2 separate regions of the Homo sapiens genome follow, and region 2 is linked to region 1. The links come from fine-mapping of genetic effects on gene expression. A gene starts in region 1. The other region holds a variant in brackets. All regions are shown on one strand. Distances are from middle to middle.

Evidence for each region. PIP is the estimated chance that this variant, and not a neighbour inherited with it, causes the effect.
Region 2: its variant is fine-mapped to the expression of WNT5A-AS1 in monocytes after R848 (Quach 2016, PIP 0.90).

What each region holds. Positions count from the first base shown.
Region 1 is chr3:55,486,662-55,489,531 of GRCh38, reverse strand. It overlaps WNT5A-AS1 (WNT5A antisense RNA 1), which reads right to left and starts at 1,914. Exons shown (of 2, transcript NR_046656.1): 1 at 1,653-1,914; 2 at 1,224-1,542. It overlaps WNT5A (Wnt family member 5A), which reads left to right and starts at 2,226. Exons shown (of 5, transcript NM_003392.7): 1 at 2,226-2,552. The coding sequence starts at 2,547. RefSeq lists enhancers at 1-91, 92-602.
Region 2 is chr3:55,615,059-55,617,967 of GRCh38, reverse strand. The region is part of intron 17 of ERC2 (ELKS/RAB6-interacting/CAST family member 2); the gene reads left to right. Among named protein-coding and RNA genes, the nearest start is that of ERC2-AS1, 8.9 kb to the right of the region's middle. RefSeq lists enhancers at 1,400-2,174, 2,175-2,909. The variant T/C (reference allele first, on the strand shown) is at 1,292.

The DNA of each region.
Region 1 (2,870 bases):
TCGGCTAGGAAAATTAAGGAATGGGAAGGGGCTGTGGAGGGTGGAACGGCATCGCTGGAGCCTGGGCCTGCGCCCTCTGGGGTGTGGGGGTGGAGGTGGGGGAGGACTGGAGGAACAAAACAAAACAGCCACCACACCAAAACACCTAGGCCACGGATTTTTCGCCTTAAGGTCAAGTGCATGCCAATGGACGGAGAAAATTGAATAGTGTGTGTGTGTGTGTGTGTGTGTGTGTGTGCGCGCGTGTGTGTGTCTTCACCTTTGACAGCTGGAGAATGCAGACGGCGGAAAATAACTATTACGCTCCAGTGTGAGGCACTGTTTGTGGGGTGGGGCCCTCGGCGTGCTGGAGGTAGCGGACACAAATCCACCAACCCTGCCCCTCCGGAGTCCCCAAAACCACGGGCATCTGGAAGCGTCTAGAAATTCCGGTGCCCGGAACCCGGTTTTGCCAAACTTCGCAATCTCCTCACCTGAGGGCACCCGCCAAGATCTCCGTGGCAGGACCACGCATCGCGCCTCATGCTCTGGGCCGGAGCCAGATGAGCAATCATGCATCCCACTACCCAAGTCCCTACTACTCTGGGGACTTTGCAGGAGGTGAGCGCCTAACCCTATCCATCAGCCCCAGTGCTTAAGTATCCTCCCCCAGAGGTAAGAATGAGGAGGTCCCCCATGAGGTTCCATGTCAAGGCAGCAGTCTCCGTGGAGCCCCAGTGGGAGCGGTCTGGGATACGCGGGCGAGCCAAGGGGTCCAGGCGGGGAAGTTGGGGTTCAGCCTCCCGCCGGTCGGTGGCTCTGGAAGGAGCGCAGACAACCAGGCGGCAGGCAGGCAGCGGCTGCGGAGTGGACCTCTCTCTTTCAGCAGATGCCGCGGGGGATGGGGAACTTAGAGAAGGGGAGACAAGGAGAGTGTACCCCGCCTCCCGGCACCCCAGCCCGTAGTACGGCTTTAAAATCCTGCAGAGTTTGTCATAGGCCGGCCTCACCACGCATGCGCATAGCAAAGTTGAGTTTTTTCTTTCTTCCCCCCCCTTCCCTCTCTCTTTCCAGCCGCCCCTAGTTCTGAAACTTTAAAGAACTTTTTTCTTTCTTTCTTTCTTTCTTTTTTTTTTTTTCTTCCTTCTGAGAACACCAGGGGAAAGAGGAGTCTGGAGAGAGGGAGGGAGAGAGTAAGGCAGTTGGCCAGAAGGGCTGGGGGGTGGGAGGGGGGGACGCGTCCCCGCGGTCGGTCAGTCTGTTTGCGGGGCACAGGATCGCGTGGAAATCTGCTGCGAGCTCCACGGAGCCGCCTCCGCCGCCCAGAGCCGGGGTCCGTGCGGCAGCTGCCCAGCGAGCCCTTCCGCCGCCGCCGTTGTGCCCGGGACCGCCCGCCTCCCGCCGGCCCGCTCTCCCGCCCCTCGGACCCGGGCGCCAAACGAGGAGGTGGGCAGCTTCGCCGGCCATGGACCGCCGGAGCTGAGTCGCCGCCGCGGAGCTCCGAGCTCTCGCCCTTCCCCAGCCTCGCGCCCGCGGTGCACTCGCTGCTCTTCGCCCTTCGCCCTGGAAAAACGGGGAAAAGAGAGATCAACCCGAAGAGAGAAAGAACGGGATACGTGGTGGGGGGGGGGAGCCCGCGTCTCCCCTGGGTTAGTCGCACCCCTCCAGCTCACCGCACAGCAATAAGTTCCGGGGCGACTTTCACCTATTTTGCTCCCCGTTTTTGCCGAACCCTAAAATGAAAGGACACAATTTGGGGCTGACTCTTGCAGCTCAGATGGCGACTTGTGCGTTTTCAGCGGCATCTCCCGGAGAAAAAGCCATGCGCGCCTGATTGTTCTGTGGCCCCAAAGCTGCAGCGGGGGTGTGTGTGTTGGGGTGTGTGTCTGTGTGTGTACAGAGACGTCCACACTAACTCGCGGCTGCAGGATCAGCGTCTGGAAGCAGACGTTTCGGCTACAGACCCAGAGAGGAGGAGCTGGAGATCAGGAGGCGTGAGCCGCCAAGAGTTTGCAGAATCTGTGGTGTGAATGAACTGGGGGCACCTGGGCGCACAGATCGCCCCCCTTCCCCCGCCCCGGGCCACAGTTGAGTAGTGGTACATTTTTTTCACCCTCTTGTGAAGAATTTCTTTTTATTATTATTTGTCGTAAGGTCTTTTGCACAATCACGCCCACATTTGGGGTTGGAAAGCCCTAATTACCGCCGTCGCTGATGGACGTTGGAAACGGAGCGCCTCTCCGTGGAACAGTTGCCTGCGCGCCCTCGCCGGACCGGCGGCTCCCTAGTTGCGCCCCGACCAGGCCCTGCCCTTGCTGCCGGCTCGCGCGCGTCCGCGCCCCCTCCATTCCTGGGCGCATCCCAGCTCTGCCCCAACTCGGGAGTCCAGGCCCGGGCGCCAGTGCCCGCTTCAGCTCCGGTTCACTGCGCCCGCCGGACGCGCGCCGGAGGACTCCGCAGCCCTGCTCCTGACCGTCCCCCCAGGCTTAACCCGGTCGCTCCGCTCGGATTCCTCGGCTGCGCTCGCTCGGGTGGCGACTTCCTCCCCGCGCCCCCTCCCCCTCGCCATGAAGGTAGGTGTTCAGTGCGCTGCCACTTTTTTTCTTTACTTCCCCCCACCCCCTGTTGGAAGTTAACTGAGTTCCCTTCGCCTCTTCCTATCCCTCCATTTCCCCAACCGCCTGAAGAAGCTGGAACTCCAGCGTCGCTGGCAGGAACCCCTACCCCTTCGCCCTCCACGCCGGGCGCACTGCCTCAGTGTCCCAGGAGATCACTTCTGGTCGCACCACCCGTTCTGCAAACAATTTTGATTTTTGAGAAAAAGTGGGGAAGAGCGATAGTAGACAAACTGAGTGCGGTTCACTGACGACTTTCCTTTTGCTCTGAGAACA
Region 2 (2,909 bases), 130 kb before region 1:
TGCCTATCCCAGTTTCCTTGTGAAAACAATTTTCTTTATTGTAAGTAAAGATTTCTAGGCCTTGGTCAATAAAAGAGAAATGGCCAGTGCTAGAAAGAGTCAAGTGGCCCCACTTCCCTTGCTCCAGATCTTAAAAACACCTAAAATGAAGCTCAATTAACTGGTTAATTTTTGCTGGTCATACGTTTTGAATGTGGAACTTCTTGGTCATTTGAGGGGTCTGACATTCTGGGCCCTTTTATCCTTTTATTGGTGAATTCACTGAAGTGTAGGCAGACAGAAAATGTTCAAGTGGCAGGCAGATAAACTTGTTAAATCCCTGGAAGTCTTTCCTTCTTTGCTCTGGGAGTTTATCATCTTGGCAGAGTTAAAAGGCAATTAGGCCTGCAGGTCTTTCCTGGCTTGTTTATTGGTGGTTTACACATGGGTGTTGAAGAGACAGGGCCATATTAAACATTCTGATCCTGCTGGCCGGAGGGGAATGAGACCTCAGCCCAACTTGGTAAGTCTCCTTGAGAGACAGCCTTGCCAAAACGCTGGAGGAAAATTGTTTAAATATAGTACCTGTGCCCCACGATGCTCATTGTTGGTGGAAAATTGCAGTCGGCTTGCTTCATGCTGTGTTCCATTTCCTGGGAAATGGTTTTATGGAAGGACATTTGATGAAAAAGTTCATTCCTTCTGTAATTGTTAGCTGCCCCTGTGGTGTGAGTTAAGGTAGAGGCGCACTGGAAATATTTCTTGCCCCAAATCTCTAGGGCAAGCCCCTTGCATGAGAAGGGAAGGCTATCAGTTTGAAACTGGGTGAGGGACAGATTTCCATTAAGTCCTCTGGTCCCTCTGAGTTCTCAGAGTCTCCCCAGCCAGGCTGATCTTGGGCAAAATTTGTAAAGGAGGTGGGTCTTGGGTTTTTGCAATCACTTCTTCCTTTTCTCACACCCTGCCTTCCATCGGCAAAGCCTGCAGGCTGCCTCCCTGGGATGAAGATACAGGGTTGGAGTAACGCCTAACTCCTTCACACCTATGTGTTAGTGAAGTGAAATGGCTCATCACTTCACCTCCTCCCCTGTTTTTCACAGTCAGCTTGGGCACTCATCTTAATGGAACAAGTGAGAATTGCTAGGGTTCAATTTGCTGGGCTCGGGGGTCAGGCACTCCTGGGTTCCACTTCTGGCTCTGTGTCTAACTGTGTGCCTTGAATTTCCTCTCTAATCTCAAGTTTTTTCTATTTGTAAAATAGGGACAAAGCTAGTCCCTACCATGCTAGTTTGTTGAGAGACTAAATAATGCA[T/C]GGAAAGTGCTTAACATAGTGCCTGGCACTTAAAAAAAAAAAAAAGCACAATAACTGGTAGCTTTTACGATTAAAATGTGCTTTATTTGTCTAACACATATATGTAAAATATATATTATGTATATGTGTATATCTAACACACATATATGTAGTGTATATATATATATGTGTGTATATTTACACAGTCCAGTGACAATTATATTTTTTGACAAGATGTAGCTATTTTTGTTTTACCAGTCTAGGGTGTTACTGAAATATAAAAACGTATCTGTATAAAATGAGAAAATCCTTGCTCAGGTCCAGAATACTTGGAATTTAAGGACTTTCCATTTCCACAACTGGCCATTGTACTCAGCGGCCAATGGAACTCCTTTCCTAAGTGGCTGCTACTTATCCAAATCTTGGTTCCTCAGGAGTTAGGCACCCTGCCTTTATTTTCTCAACTAAAGAAAACACAACAGATAACTGCAGCTTTTATTCTCAATCTGACCTTTCATGTTGTGAAACTCTTTTGCCATAGTGTCTTGCCAGCGTCTGCACAAGGACTTCCTCTAGCTGAGTAATGTGGTTCTGATTAAGGACATCCTATAAGACCCAGGAGGATGGCCTGGGAAGGAAACCAGCCTGAGACACTAGAGTGAATTTCCATCCCTCAGTCAGATATATGATATTAAAGACCAGAAGGTATATGGAGTTTGTCGTTGGAAGACTCAGAAACAAAATTAAAGCAAATGGCTGACAAATTGGCTGTCTTTTATGCAAAGTTGACAAGTAAGCTGCCTCTTACCCGAAAGAGGATATGCAGAGCCCTCCGGCCAAATGGCTCGGCAGGCAGTCAGCAGGTCTTTTGAAGTTCCTGCTCGCATGCCACTTTTAACAACAAGGCCTCTGCTGAATTGCTTCCTCGTAAAGACATGGAAACTTAATTTTCACCGAAAATATCATAGTTCCAACAATGATCATTCATTCCTCTCCTTAGTGCATGTAATATTGGGTAAAATACCTGTGTTATGTACAAATGAGGTATTTTTTTTCTCCTTACAGTTTTATGAATTAGGCTATAAATATTAAACCTTACTTTATTTCGCGGATGCTAAGACCTTTCCCTGGGGCCCACTAGGCACTGGCTCACTCCTGCCATAGTCAGGAGGTGAGGTGATTGTGACCAACAATGGAAGATCCCATTTGCTCTCCCTGGATTCATGGAGGCTCTATCCACAGGAGGAAGGACAAGAGGGCTGTGCAGTGGGCAATGGCGTTTGGAGAGCTTGGAGTTTCTCTATCAAATATCTAAGAATCTACTAATAGTTGTAATTCTAATATGATTTTCTTGTTAATCTCTGTCAAGCCATGAAATCTGATATGTTAACCATGACTAAGCCATGAAATTTGTCAACTTTGTCTGTGATTTACACAGGCTCTGGGTATTTTATTTTTTAACTCTTAATACAAAGTGTAGAACAGTACTTCCCAGTATGCTTTTCCCAGCAGGCAGCTGGTATCCTATGACAACAAGTAAGAACAGAGTGTACGTGTTTCTCTTGCTGTTTCAAGGACCAAGGACAGATAAGATAAAACCTAAAAACTAAATAATATATTTTTCTTTGGGGTGATAACT